4 linked regions of the Homo sapiens genome follow. The protein of the gene in region 3 interacts with the protein of the main gene of each other region in a biochemical or structural test. Each region holds a gene or a part of one and is shown on either strand. Other genes may lie near its edges.

Region 1 (4,183 bases), on a different chromosome or scaffold from region 3:
TGCAGCCTAGGAGAACAGCCCTTGTCCCACAATTGCCCCTCAGTAGCCCTCCGGCCTCTTCTGAAGCTTTAACCAAGTGCTTGAAAAGAACCGAAAGTGAGGAAATATTCCAACTAGAATGGATCCCTTTGTGCCAACAGCCTCCTTTAGAGTTCAGGAACACAGAGGAAATCGAGGAGGGCTGACTTTTCACCTTAGAACTCACAAGGCCCAAATGTGCCAATGTTTAACTGTCTCTCCGAGGTGCTTCTGACACCCGGAAATTCACCATGTATTTGGCATCACCAGGAGCTCCTCAACTCCACTGCTTCCTCCTGCTTCTCTCTTCCCTGGCCTTAACTTCACCACCCAGACCCACTGTCCAGCTTCCCAGTCTCTCTGGGTCCCCACTGAGGCTGCCCTTTTTGGGGAAGGAAGAGTGGCCTTTTTTCTTGGCCCTCAAAACTCCTCTGAAGGGGTCTGGAGCCCGCTGGGAGACCAAGAGCTTCTCTTGAATCTCGGCTGCTGCATGTTTAGTATTCACAGCATGTCTCTAAAAAACGTCCTGAGATCATTCATCAGGCACTGTGCTGTGTGCCTAGCTGCTCTCCTTCCGGGTGTGTGTGTGTGGCCAGGACCCTCCCTCCATCTGCTGGTGAACACACATGCACACACACCTTAACCTTTTTCCCTTTTCACCAAACCAATCGCATTTTCTAAGCAGACCTTTGCCAGCTGGCAGATCGCTCCCTTACTGAGGTGGGCTCCTGGCGTTGGGCCTGGGCTCGAAGCCGCTCACACTCCAGTGCTGGGGAGAGGCGCTGAGAGCAGGAGCCCGAGCCGAAACTCAAGGTGCGTGTGGATGTTTGCGATGGTGACCAGGAGGGGAGCTGCAGGGAGGGCATCCCCAGCAGAAGGCGAGCAAACAAGGGGCGAGAAGCAAGGTCAGGGGCCAGGGAACGGAGTCTCCGAAGCAAGCGTTCCTGCTGCCCCTTCTCCGCAGTTCACTCCCCGCCCCCCTTTCCCGGGTTCACTTTGGAAATTGGCTTGCCCTCTCGGCAGCCAGCAGTTCCCGGCAGAGTCCGGCCGTAACGGTCAGATTCAAGAAGTGAGGCAGCGCCAGGCTGGGTGGCTGGGTTGCTGGGTTGTTCTTGGGAGATTCTTTCCCCAATTGTCAATTTTTTGCTTATTTTTAGTAGTGACCCGAGCCAGGAACTGCGCCTTTAAGCCGCTTTCCCATTCGGGGAAATCGACGCCAGCACTCGAGGGTCGGGAGGCGCCGGAGAGGCCCCTCATTCTGCACTCCCCTCTTTCCTCCCCCTCCCCCTCCCCCCGCCCCTTCTCCCCTCCCCTCCTCGGCCGTCCGGCCGCCTCGCCGCCATCCGTCACCTCGCAGCCTGCCGCACTCCTGGAGCGAGAGAGCGACGAGCGAGCCACGGCGATGGTGCCGCCCGCGGCGCAGCCATGAAGCCCGCCCGAGGAGCCCGCGCGCGCTCCTGCCATCCTGCCCGCAGCCCGCCGCCTGCGCGCCAGCTCCCCGCGTCCCGGGCCAGCTGCTGCCGCCCTGCCAACCTCTGCCCGCCCCGCCGCCCGGCGCCACTGAGCCCCAAGCCCATGCCGGGCTCGGGGGCACGGGTGCCCTAGTCCCGCTGCCGCCGCCGCCGCCGCCGCCGCTGCGCCGCCGCTGCCGCGCCGCTGAGGAGGCGGAGGAGGAGGAGGAGGAGGAGGAAGAGGAGGAGGAAGAGGAGGGGGAGGAAGGTAAGAGGCGCGCTGCCTTCAGGGGGGCGCGCCCGCTGTCTCAGCCCAACCGGGGGTGGGTCGCGGCGGGAGCGTTCCGCCCCGGGCCGGCTGGGGGGCGACTGGCGCTTGGGCGCCCCCGGGAGCCGGGGGCAGGGCGGGGGGCGCCGAACGTCTGGCCGCCCGGAGTTTGGGCGGGCGGGGTAACGGCCCGTTGCGTGCCCACTGCCCCGGCGAGTCTCTGGCTTGGCGGGCTCGTTTGGCCTCCGCGGGTGCGGGGTGAGGAGTCGAGCGCAGGGGAGTGCAGCGCGTTCATTATGGAGCCTTTGTGTGCGCGCCTGGGCTGTGGGCACAGTTGGGAGAGCTGGCGAGACGCGGGGCCTGGCTGCTAGGAGGTGGCCACTTAGCCGGGGTGCCCGGCGAAGCCCGAGCCCAGGGGCTGCCAGAAACAGCTGTCTGAAGCATGTGCGTGGTTCCCGGGGCCATGTTCACAAGCGGACACGGAGGCGCACACACACGCACACACAGCCGCACAACATACCCGGCGCTCAGCCACACAGTCAGCCCCATGCAAAGACCACACACACACACACACACACACACACACACACACACACAGAGAGAGAGAGAGAGAGCGCGAGCTACACTTGCCCCCTCCCACCAAGATGCTAATAAAGCTCAAACACATATACAGATACATGCACCTCCCCCTAGCGCTGCTAAAACATGCACACACAAACACACTCCTCTACTCCCCAGCCTAGTGCTTTGGAGGTTGGAGAGTGTGTGTGTGTATGTGAGTGTGTGTGTGTTTTCTCAGAGTGGTCTTGAGAAACTACATGACAACTGCACATTACTGCAGATCCAGTACCTGCTGCTTCCCCCCAATACACACCCAGCAACCCCCCGTCACACGCAGCTACTGTAGACACCTCCACCAGAGCCCTTAAGAACCCCATTCTGGCAAAAAGCGTGCCCAACTCTGGTAGTCATACCCTCCACGCTCGAGCTGTTGGGTTTCCTGCACACACACACCACAGCCCCATACACACACACTGAAACCACTGCAGGGGCAAATGTTTGACACCTTCCCCCAGAAGCAGGTGGCACCTCCACCCTTGCAGCTGCAACTAAAGAGCCCCAGATGACAGCAAACGCCGAATTCTGCTAGACCTGCCCCTCCCCTTGGCATCTTGGTCCAGGTGCAAAACCCTGGAGTCCACCGGGTGGTCTTAGCATCCTGCAGCTCTTACGGAGGGCGGGGCAGTCTCTGGACTCCTGCCTTCGGAGGAACTGCTATAAGCGCAAGGCTCCCTTGGGGGCGCCCTTCTCGAAGTGGAGGGTGGGGGATTCTATGCTGACTCAGAGCGAAGCACCAAGTGAGTTTTCCCAGCTGGAGACCGGGGTAAATGGCGAACTCCACCTGGGCCTAGAGGACCCGGGATAGTGTGCCAGTTCAGCCACAGAGGCCCTCAGCTTGGAGGCCCTGCCCCTCCCTCGCCTTCCTTGCCCATGAAGCTCACTGCAGGAGAAGCAGGGGGAACCCAGCTGCCAGCTTCTTGGGAGCTAAGAGAGGCTTTTCGGGAAGCCTTTGCTGTTTCCGCTGAGCAAAGAGATCTTGCTCTACCCGGGGAGACCTCAACAAGACTTGGCCGTGCCCAAGCAAACATGCCAGCGTCTACCCAATTTCATGGCTTGTTTTTTTGTTTGTTTGTTTTTGTATTTCATGTGAAAGGACTAATTCAACCTTAGCAGCTTGTCATGAAGGCACCCCTGAGGTTAAATAAGGCATAATGTATTGTGGATGGGGGAAACAAGGTTGAGGGGAGCAAGGACTAGTGGGTTTTACTGTTTTAAGTAGAGATGCGGAGTTAGAATGTAGACCGTGGTAAAATCGTGACGGCGATGGCTTCTACGTCAGAGCCCCTTCCCTGCTCCTGCCCCTCCCGTCGGCTGCTCAGGGCTCCTCTGGGTCCTCTCCCCCGCCCCCTTAGATTATTTAGGCGGGGCTTTGCTCACTGCTCGGGCAAATTTGATGACAGAATCCCTGCCAGGCCAAGGTGTTAATAGCTGATAGAGGTTTACTGCTTACACCTCACAGGTAACATTTGCATTTTTAAAGGACACAGAGGAGTGACTCTGTTGGTGGGGCTTTCAGGCACCTGTGGCAGGACTCAGGCAGGAGCAGTTTGTGGACAACCTCATCTGTCTACTCTACTGTCTGTGCCTAGGCCAGAGTTATGGGTGATGTGTGTGTGGGAGTGAGGGTGTCAGAAGGTGAGATGTAATTGTGGAGGGTTTTGAGGCCCACAAAGAGAAGGTTTCAATTGACTTGAGAGGCAATTGGGAGCCACTGCCAGATTCTGAGAAAGGAGGGAATAAGATATAAGCAGGAAAGAAACACTCATTGCTGCATGTGGAGAGAATATCCCCTATCTCTCGCTGGCACCCAACACCACAACCGCCT
Region 2 (3,500 bases), on a different chromosome or scaffold from region 3:
CCCAGGAAAGGCCCAGAAGGAGGGTGATAAAGCAGGGAGGGGTTCAGGCCCAAGTAATCTGATTCAGAAACCTCTGTGTTGTAATAACTCCTTCCACAGGAGGAATCATGAACTCACCCAGGTGGCACTCTTGATCCACTTAGAATGGCTCCAGCAACACATCTAGGGCAATCCAGTAGTAGATCTCTTTAGGTATGTGTATTAGTCCGTTTTCATGCTGCTGATAAAGACATACTCGAGACTGGGTAATTTATAAAGAAAAAAGAGGTTTCATGGACTCACAGTTCCACATGGCTGGGGAGGCCTCACAATCATGGTGGAAGGCAAAAGGCACGTCTTACGTGGCAGCAGGGAAGAGAGATGAGAACCAAGCAAACGGGGTTTCCCCTTATAAAACTATCAGATCTCATGAGACTTATTCACTACCATGAGAACAGTATGGGGAAAACTGCCCCCATGATTCAATTATCTCCCACGAGGTCCCTCGCACAACACGTAGGACTTATGGGAGCTACAATTCAAGGTGAGATTTGGGTGGGGACAGCCAAACCATATCAGTATGAAACCCGATTGAAAAAGCCGAGAGACAGACAGTGGCATACGGGGCATCTGATTCTCCACAGATGGGAGCCTCATGAGCTCAAAGGGAACTTCAGCAATCATCTCACCCACAGTCACAGACTTTTTCTTAAAGGGCCAGATAGTAAATGTTTGACTTGGGTGGCCATACCATCTCTGCCATGACTGCTAGACTGTCACTCTAGTGCAAAAGCAGCCATAGACAATTATGTCAGCGAATGAGCATGGCTGTGTTCTCATTCAACTTTTTTTATTATTATTTATAAAAATACCAGGCTGGATTCAGCCCATGGGCTATAGAGTGCCAACTTCTGAATAGTTCACTCTTTTTTGGGCAAGGCAGATAAAGGCCTCTTAAAAGTGATATCCAGCCAGGCTCAGTGGCTCACGCCTATAATCCCAGCATGTTGGGAGGCTGAGGCAGGAGGTTCACTTGAGGTCAGGATGAGGCCAGCCTGGCCAACATGGTGAAACCCAATCTCTACTAAAAATACCAAAATTAGCTGGGCATAGTGGCGCATTGCCTGTAATCCCAGCTACTCGGGAGGCAGAGGTTGCAGTGAACCTAGATCGTGCCACTGCACTCCAGCCTGGGAGACAGAGTGAGATTCTGTCTCAAAAAAAAAAAAAAAAAAAGTGATATCTTGCCCAAGCCAAACAGCTAGTTACTGTATCAGAAAGAACTCTTTTCACACTGAAAATCATTTTTCTATGGGACCTGTTAAACTCGTGTCTGGTCCAGCAAGCAGGTGGACCAGCTAAATCTACCTGACCCTCCTACACAGGTGTCCTACTGCACTGAAGGTAGCTGAGATGGATGAAAGAGTTTCACCCTGAAAAAAAAAAATCATGGATATTAAAGACTTCCCCAGATGTAGTGTAGGGTTGGAGGTCTGTTTAATGTAAGGGTTGGATAGTTTCCTGACTTAACAGCAAATCATTGGGCAGACTGCATTTTGATGACTCTTGGAGGAAGCCCTAGAAATATTTTCCCCCAAGGTAATGTCATTTTTAAAAAAACATAAATGAACATGAAAGGAAACTTCTAAGGCATGTGTTGGCTGCTCTTGCCTGCAGCTGGATGAGGGCTGGATGGATGATGACAGGAACGACTTTCTGGATGACCTGCACATGGACATGCTGGAGGAGCAGCACCACCAGGCCATGCAATTCACAGCTAGCGTGCTGCAGCAGGTAACGCCCACGCACCAGTCCCTGACACTCTGCCCTGCTGAGCTGGAGGAAAATCTGCTTCCTCCATCTCCCTTTATGGTGCTAAAGACCATCAGAAGTCCATCCACCTGGAAGGCAGCAAGAAAACAGCCTCAAGTACTTTTCTATTTGAGCACCAGACCAGTGAAATGCAAGCTGGTACTGTCCCTAGCTAAGCTTTTAAATCTAAGCAACATTGCCAAAGCAAAGCTGACCTTCTGATAATTTGTTTGGAAAACATATGCGTTGGCATTACCATAGATTGCAAAAAGCCATGTTTTCCAAAGTAAAGCAATCCCCTCTGTTTAACAGGAGCTGCTTGGAGCTCTCTAGCTCCCTGCTATGCTACTACCATTGTCAGAGTCTTAATGAGCCACTTATTGAGTCCTTATTGAGTTGAACAAGGACCTTTATACATCCTTCTACCTGTGTACTGATTCATTTAACAGAATCATTGAGAATCATTCATTGAGATAAAGTGACTATTATCCTCATTTTACAAAACTGAGGACAAGAACAAGAATAAGTGACTTGCCCAGGTAGATACGGGTAGGTGTAGCTAAGGCCCACGCTATTGACGTGGTCCTACTGTCAGATGCTGTCCCTTGGCCTTAGAAATGTACAGCCTGCCCTATCCAGAAACCGCAAGGAAAGGTCAAACCTGAGTACCTGCTGCGCAGGCCTCCCTCACTGTGACCCTTTGTTCTTGTGTTTATGCAGAAGAAGCACGACGAAGACGGTGGGACCACAGATACAGCCACCATCTTGTCCAACCAGCACGAGAAGGACAGCGGTGTGGGGCGGACCGACGAGAGCACCCGTAATGACGAGAGCTCGGAGCAAGAGAACAATGGCGACGACGCCACCGCATCCTCCAACCCGCTGGCGGGGCAGAGGAAGCTCACCTGCAGCCAGGACACCTTGGGCAGCGGCGACCTGCCCTTCAGCAACGAGTCTTTCATTTCGGCCGACTGCACGGACGCCGACTACCTGGGGATCCCGGTGGACGAGTGCGAGCGCTTCCGCGAGCTCCTGGAGCTCAAGTGCCAGGTGAAGAGCGCCACCCCTTACGGCCTGTACTACCCTAGCGGCCCCCTGGACGCCGGCAAGAGTGACCCTGAGAGCGTGGACAAGGAGCTGGAGCTGCTGAACGAAGAGCTGCGCAGCATCGAGCTGGAGTGCCTGAGCATCGTGCGCGCCCACAAGATGCAGCAGCTCAAGGAGCAGTACCGCGAGTCCTGGATGCTGCACAACAGCGGCTTCCGCAACTACAACACCAGCATCGACGTGCGCAGACACGAGCTCTCAGATATCACCGAGCTCCCGGAGAAATCCGACAAGGACAGCTCGAGCGCCTACAACACAGGCGAGAGCTGCCGCAGCACCCCGCTCACCCTGGAGATCTCCCCCGACAACTCCTTGAGGAGAGCGGCGGAGGGCATCAGCTGCCCGAGCAGCGAAGGGGCTGTGGGGACCACGGAAGCCTACGGGCCAGCCTCCAAGAATCTGCTCTCCATCACGGAAGATCCCGAAGTGGGCACCCCTACCTATAGCCCGTCCCTGAAGGAGCTGGACCCCAACCAGCCCCTGGAAAGCAAAGAGCGGAGAGCCAGCGACGGGAGCCGGAGCCCCACGCCCAGCCAGAAGCTGGGCAGCGCCTACCTGCCCTCCTATCACCACTCCCCATACAAGCACGCGCACATCCCGGC
Region 3 (3,500 bases):
ATTTCCAATTTCATCCATGTCCCTACAAAGGACATGAACTCATCATTTTTTATGGCTGCATAGTATTCCATGGTGTATATGTGCCACATTTTCTTAATCCAGTCTATCATTGTTGGACATTTGGCTTGGTTCCAAGTCTTTGCTATTGTGAATAATGCCGCAATAAACATACGTGTGCATGTGTCTTTATAGCAGCATGATTTATAATCCTTTGGGTATATACCCAGTAATGGGATGGCTGGGTCAAATGGTATTTCTAGTTCTAGATCCCTGAGGAATCGCCACACTGACTTCCACAATGGTTGAACTAGTTTACAGTCCCACCAACAGTGTAAAAGTGTTCCTATTTCTCCACATCCTCTCCAGCACCTGTTGTTTCCTGACTTTTTAATGATTGCCATTCTAACTGGTGTGAGATGGTATCTCATTGTGGTTTTGATTTGCATTTCTCTGATGGCCAGTGATGATGAGCATTTTTTCATGTGTGTTTTGGCTGCATAAATGTCTTCTTTTGAGAAGTGTCTGTTCATGTCCTTCACCCACTTTTTGATGGGGTTGTTCGTTTTTTTCTTGTAAATTTGTTTGAGTTCATTGTAGATTCTGGATATTAGACCTTTGTCAGATGAGTAGGTTGTGAAAATTTTCTCCCATTTTGTAGGTTGCCTGTTCACTCTGATGGTAGTTTCTTTTGCTGTGCAGAAGCTCTTTACTTTAATTAGATCCCATTTGTCAATTTTGGCTTTTGTTGCCATTGCTTTTGGTGTTTTAGACATGAAGTCCTTGCCCATGCCTATGTCCTGAATGGTAATGCCTAGGTTTTCTTCTAGGGTTTTTATGGTTTTAGGTCTAACGTTTAAGTCTTTAATCCATGTTGAATTGATTTTTGTCTAAGGTGTAAGGAAGGGATCCAGTTTCAGCTTTCTACATATGGCTAGCCAGTTTTCCCAGCACCATTTATTAAATAGGGAATCCTTTCCCCATTGCTTGTTTTTCTCAGGTTTGTCAAAGATCAGATAGTTGTAGATATGTGACGTTATTTCTGAGGGCTCTGTTCTGTTCCATTGATCTATATCTCTGTTTTGGTACCGGTACCATGCTGTTTTGGTTACTGTCGCCTTGTAGTATAGTTTGAAGTCAGGTAGCGTGATGCCTCCAGCTTTGTTCTTTTGGCTTAGGATTGACTTGGCGATGCGGGCTCTTTTTTGGTTCCATATGAACTTTAAAGTAGTTTTTTGCAATTCTGTGAAGAAAGGCATTGGTAGCTTGATGGGGATGGCATTGAATCTGTAAATTACCTTGGGCAGTATGGCCATTTTCACAATATTGATTCTTCTTACCCATGAGCATGGAATGTTCTTCCATTTGTTTGTATCCTCTTTTATTTCCTTGAGCAGTGGTTTGTAGTTCTCCTTGAAGAGGTCCTTCACATCCCTTGGAAGTTGGATTCCTAGGTATTTTATTCTCTTTGAAGCAATTGTGAATGGGAGTTCACTCATGATTTGGCTCTCTGTTTGTCTGTTGTTGGTGTATAAGAATGCTTGTGATTTTTGTACATTGATTTTGTATCCTGAGACTTTGCTGAAGTTGCTTATCAGCTTAAGGAGATTTTGGGCTTAGACAATGGGGTTTTCTAGATATACAATCATGTCATCTGCAAACAGGGACAATTTGATTTCCTCTTTTCCTAATTGAATACCCTTTATTTCCTTCTCCTGCCTAATTGCCCTGGCCAGAACTTCCAACACTACGTTGAATAGGAGTGGTGAGAGAGGGCATCCCTGTCTTGTGCCAGTTTTCAAAGGGAATGCTTCCAGTTTTTGCCCATTCAGTATGATATTGGCTGTGGGTTTGTCATAGATAGCTCTTATTATTTTGAAATATGTCACATCAATACCTAATTTATTGAGAGTTTTTAGCATGAAGGGTTGTTGAATTTTGTCAAAGGCTTTTTCTGCATCTATTGAGATAATCATGTGGTTTTTGTCTTTGGCTCTGTTTATATGCTGGATTACATTTATTGATTTGCATATATTGAACCAGCCTTGCATCCCAGGGATGAAGCCCACTTGATCATGGTGGATAAGCTTTTTGATGTGCTGCTGGATTCGTTTTGCCAGTATTTTATTGAGGATTTTTGCATCCATGTTCATCAAGGATATTGGTCTAAAATTCTCTTTTTTGGTTGTGTCTCTGCCCAGCTTTGGTATCAGAATGATGCTGGCCTCATAAAATGAGTTAGGGAGGATTCCCTCTTTTTCTATTGATCGGAATAGTTTCAGAAGGAATGGTACCAGTTCCTCCTTTTACCTCTGCTAGAATTCAGCTGTGAATCCATCTGGTCCTGGACTCTTTTTGGTTGGTAAACTATTGATTATTGCCACAATTTCAGATCCTGTTATTGGTCTATTCAGAGATTCAACTTCTTCCTGGTTTAGTCTTGGGAGAGTGTATGTGTCAAGGAATTTATCCATTTCTTCTAGATTTTCTAGTTTATTTGCATGAGGTGTTTGTAGTATTCTCTGATGGTAGTTTGTATTTCTGTGGGATCGGTGGTGATATCCCTTTTATCATTTTTTATTGCATCTATTTGATTCTTCTCTCTTTTTTTCTTTATTAGTCTTGCTAGCGGTCTATCAATTTTGTTGATCCTTTCAAAAAACCAGCTCCTGGATTCATTAATTTTTTGAAGGGTTTTTTGTGTCTCTATTTCCTTCAGTTCTGCTCTGATTTTAGTTATTTCTTGCCTTCTGCTAGCTATTGAATGTGTTTGCTCTTGCTTTTCTAGTTCTTTTAATTGTGATGTTAGGGTGTCAATTTTGGATCTTTCCTGCTTTCTCTTGTGGGCATTTAGTGCTATAAATTTCCCTCTACACACTGCTTTGAATGTGTCCCAGAGACTCTGGTATGTTGTGTCTTTGTTCTTGTTGGTTTCAAAGAACATCTTTATTTCTGCCTTCATTTCATTATGTACCCAGTAGTCATTCAGGAGCAGGTTGTTCAGTTTCCATGTATTTGAGCGGTTTTGAGTGAGATTCTTAATCCTGAGTTCTAGTTTGATTGCACTGTGGTCTGAGAGATAGTTTGTTATAATCTCTCTTCTTTTACATTTGCTGAGGAGAGCTTTACTTCCAAGTATGTGGTCAATTTTGGAATAGGTGTGGTGTGGTGCTGAAAAAAATGTATATTCTGTTGATTTGGGGTGGAGAGTTCTGTAGATGTCTATTAGGTCCACTTGGTGCAGAGCTGAGTTCAATTCCTGGGTATCCTTGTTGACTTTCTGTCTCGTTGATCTGTCTAATGTTGACAGTGGGGTGTTAAAGTCTCCCATTATTAATGTGTGGGAGTCTAAGTCTCTTTGTAGGTCACTCAGGACTTGCTTTATGAATCTGGGTGCTCCTGTGTTGGGTGCATATATATTTAGGATAGTTAGCTCTTCTTGTTGAATGGATCCCTTTACCATTATGTAATGGCCTTCTTTGTCTCTTTTGATCTTTGTTGGT
Region 4 (3,500 bases), on a different chromosome or scaffold from region 3:
GAAAAATCACTTACACGTATATTTCTTAAATGCTGATCATTCTTTCTGGTATTAGAGAAAACACTGGCTGCTTCCTAGTCATTTATTTTAAATGGACGGATCAATTCAATAAGTATTGAACACATGTTACTTGCTGGTACTATCCTAGGTATCGCATGGATACAGAAAAGAAGCAAAACCCTTTGGCAATGTTGGGAGGCACTTGGAAAATCTTTCACACAGTGATGTTGAATAGAAGCTTTGAAACAGCTCCACTGAGAACAGATGATAGTAGTGTTTGTGTTAAATAAGCAAAGCAGTACAATAGAAAGCCTCAAAAAAGTAAGGATCACTTATTTATGTTTAGAATTGATTTTCTAATTTTACTTTATTCTGTAGGACACTGGAGTCACTAACAGGGATCTAATTAGTCGAAGAATAAAAGAATACAACAATCTGATGAGGTGAGAATCCCACCTTGCCTGCAGTTAATTTGGATATAAAATCAGTACAGTCATCCCCCTTATTTGCAAGGATACATTCCAAGACCCCCAGTGGATGCTTGAAACCGCAGATAGTACCAAATCCTCTCTACGCTATATTTTTTCCCATATAGTAATGGGCGGGTAGTGTATACAGTGTGGCTACTCGGGATGAAAGGATGATTCTTATTCTGGGCAGGACTACAAAATTGAAAGCTTATGAATTGTTTATTCCAAGAATTTTCCAGTTAATATTTTCAGACCATGGCTCACCACGGGTAACTGAAACCATAGATAGAGGGGGATTACTGTAATTGTTAACAAATGTCATTTCCTTCAACAGCAAAGCAGAACAGTTGCCAAAAACACCTCGCCAGAGTCTCAGCATCAGGCAAACTTTGCTTGGTGCTAAATCAGAGCCAAAGACTCAAAGCCCACACTCTCCGAAGGAAGAGTCGGAAAGGAAACTTCTCAGTAAAGGTATTGATGTTAGCTTTCTAACAAATAAATATAATGATTTAAAATTGGCATCGTTGAGGTACGTTTATGTTTTCTGTACCATTTCTACTGACCAGGCCCCATGTCAACTAGCTCAAAATTCATAGTAGGCTTGGTCTGGGCTCATTGGGCCTTTCCCTTTGTGAGGCCCAAGACACCAGCTTCATTATAAAGCGAAAGTGAGGGAAAATACAAACAATACTTAAATCAGAGACATTACAAATTTAAATGACTCCGAGGATTCAGGTCCTATCATTTTGAAATAAAACTATTACTTTTCCCTTTGTTGAAGTCTCACTATAAAGATGACACACTGATTCTATGTAGTTTTTTTTTTTGCTGTTTTAAAGAAAATTATAGCACGCATTATAAAAGAATGAAGTAAAAGTTATATGGAAGAGAACATATTTTTGTTAAATATAGGATGTATTATTTATATTACAGGACTTGGATTTATGTAAACATTGATAAAGTGTTTTTAAAGTCATGATTTAGACACTCATTTCCATTTTATTATGTTGTTTTATTTTGACTGGCAATCAAAAGATGATACCAGTCCCCCAAAAGACAAAGGCACATGGAGAAAAGGCATTCCAAGTATCATGAGAAAGACATTTGAGAAAAAGCCAACTGCTACAGGAACTTTCGGCGTCCGACTAGATGACTGCCCACCAGCTCATACTAATCGGGTAGGAGACACCAGCCCACCGGATTTCCTCAAGTCATTAATTCAGTTTTGATTATAATGGGATCTGAGTATATAGCCTTTCAGACAACAGAGACTGTCAATCTGTTTTCCTTTTCATAGCAGACCTTAGTTTCCCTAAGTATTTCTGACCTGTAATGCTTTTTTTCTAATGTATTGACTCCGAAATTGAATAATTATTCAACCATTAGGAATTTGTCTGAAATGGTCTGTAAGAATTCGTCTTCAAATCGTGTGTTTCTGCTTTTAGCATTTTAAAACAAGGATGAGAACAAGGACCTGATTAAGAAAGTATAATACATGTAAATGTATGTGCATATATTTAAAACACCCATGCTAGGATTCGTATCATGAATTGATATTACTCTCTCCTCCTCTTTTCTTGACTCTTTATTCAGCGGAACGGTTTCCACATTCTCTTTACCTGTTGTTACTTCCTTTTTAGAATGTTATCTCTCTGGGGGTCCCTCTCTTTCTTTCAGTCTCTTTGTTCTCTTCTTACTGTCTCAAATATCTCTTGCAGGTTTTATCTATTCCCAGATCTATAATGTCTGTATTCTTTATATTACATAACAGCAATTTATGTTTCCTTTTGGATGAAAGGGGCATTTTAGCTGTGATATACAACTACTAAACATTTGTGCTGCATTAAATAAAATGTTTATTTCTTGTTTTGCAGTATATTCCATTAATAGTTGACATATGTTGCAAATTAGTTGAAGAAAGAGGTCTTGAATATACAGGTATTTATAGAGTTCCTGGAAATAATGCAGCCATCTCAAGTATGCAAGAAGAACTCAACAAGGGAATGGCTGATATTGATATACAAGATGATGTAAGTTTGCTTATTTGAATAACTGATCCTTTTTTTTCCCCCTTTGGTGGAACTGGATATGAAAATACTATATTTCTATTTTGTACACCTAGAAATGGCGAGATTTGAATGTGATAAGCAGTTTACTAAAATCCTTCTTCAGAAAACTCCCTGAGCCTCTCTTCACAAATGGTGAGTTAACTCCCGTGAAAGATACCAGATGAAATGGTTCAAGTTACAATTGGAAAACCATAGAATATTAAATTGAACAAGGACAAAATGTCTTGGTCAAAGGAAGCAGGAGGCTTTATTTAGTTCTCCCTCATATATTAAAAACATAAAAGTTATTTAGGTTCAGTGAAATATGTATTATCTTGTTCATACATGTTTGCAGCCAAATTAATATTATTGTTTCCAGTCAAATGGCTTCTGACATCATAAGGTACAATGAGTAGAAAAATGTTTTTTCAGTCAAGCCAAGTATTTAAGTGCCATGTAAGACACTTTACTAGATGTTGTTGGAGGGTGGGGGAGGAATGGACAGGCTGTGTAAATATAGGATGGTTCCTGCAGGGAACTTACATTTTAGAAATTTACATTTCAAAACTATTAGAACTCTTTCCTATGTTGTGGTTTAAAATTGATCCTTAAAGGGAAACTAGATTACAATTCACCTAGGCAATTTAAGATAAATTTGTTTTATTGTTCTTGTCGTCAGATAAATATGCTGATTTTATTGAAGCCAATCGTAAAGAAGATCCTCTAGATCGTCTGAAAACATTAAAAAGACTAGTAGGTATTATTTTATATTTTGGGGGATACAACTAAAATTCAGCCTCTGAATCCATTGTGAAAATAATCTGTTTCAGATTCACGATTTGCCTGAACATCATTATGAAACACTTAAGTTCCTTTCAGCTCATCTGAAGACAGTGGCAGAAAATTCAGAAAAAAATAAGGTATGTAAAATGCTTATTGAAGAAATGTACTTTTAGTGGCTTTAGTTTAAAAGATATGCTTC

What was found.
Region 1: the proteins of GPRC6A (region 3) and FRMPD3 interact in a test that uses a peptide from one of them, tested with the Homo sapiens proteins (one large-scale study listed by IntAct).
Region 2: the proteins of GPRC6A (region 3) and PDZRN3 interact in a test that uses a peptide from one of them, tested with the Homo sapiens proteins (one large-scale study listed by IntAct).
Region 4: the proteins of GPRC6A (region 3) and ARHGAP21 interact in a test that uses a peptide from one of them, tested with the Homo sapiens proteins (one large-scale study listed by IntAct).

What each region holds. Positions count from the first base shown.
Region 1 is NC_000023.11:107,448,269-107,452,451, forward strand, and holds the start of FRMPD3 (FERM and PDZ domain-containing protein 3), read left to right. Parts: upstream 1-1,383; 5' UTR 1,384-1,737; intron 1,738-4,183.
Region 2 is NC_000003.12:73,383,942-73,387,441, reverse strand, and holds part of PDZRN3 (E3 ubiquitin-protein ligase PDZRN3), read left to right. Parts: intron 1-1,656; coding exon 1,657-1,773; intron 1,774-2,511; coding exon 2,512-3,500. UniProt on the Homo sapiens protein: E3 ubiquitin-protein ligase. Plays an important role in regulating the surface level of MUSK on myotubes. Mediates the ubiquitination of MUSK, promoting its endocytosis and lysosomal degradation. Might contribute to terminal myogenic differentiation.
Region 3 is NC_000006.12:116,819,084-116,822,583, reverse strand, and holds part of GPRC6A (G-protein coupled receptor family C group 6 member A isoform 1 precursor), read left to right. Parts: intron 1-3,500. UniProt on the Homo sapiens protein: Receptor activated by multiple ligands, including osteocalcin (BGLAP), basic amino acids, and various cations. Activated by amino acids with a preference for basic amino acids such as L-Lys, L-Arg and L-ornithine but also by small and polar amino acids.
Region 4 is NC_000010.11:24,594,888-24,598,387, reverse strand, and holds part of ARHGAP21 (rho GTPase-activating protein 21), read left to right. Parts: intron 1-378; coding exon 379-443; intron 444-804; coding exon 805-941; intron 942-1,505; coding exon 1,506-1,648; intron 1,649-2,344; coding exon 2,345-2,500; intron 2,501-2,592; coding exon 2,593-2,671; intron 2,672-3,197; coding exon 3,198-3,271; intron 3,272-3,348; coding exon 3,349-3,438; intron 3,439-3,500. UniProt on the Homo sapiens protein: Functions as a GTPase-activating protein (GAP) for RHOA and CDC42. Downstream partner of ARF1 which may control Golgi apparatus structure and function. Also required for CTNNA1 recruitment to adherens junctions.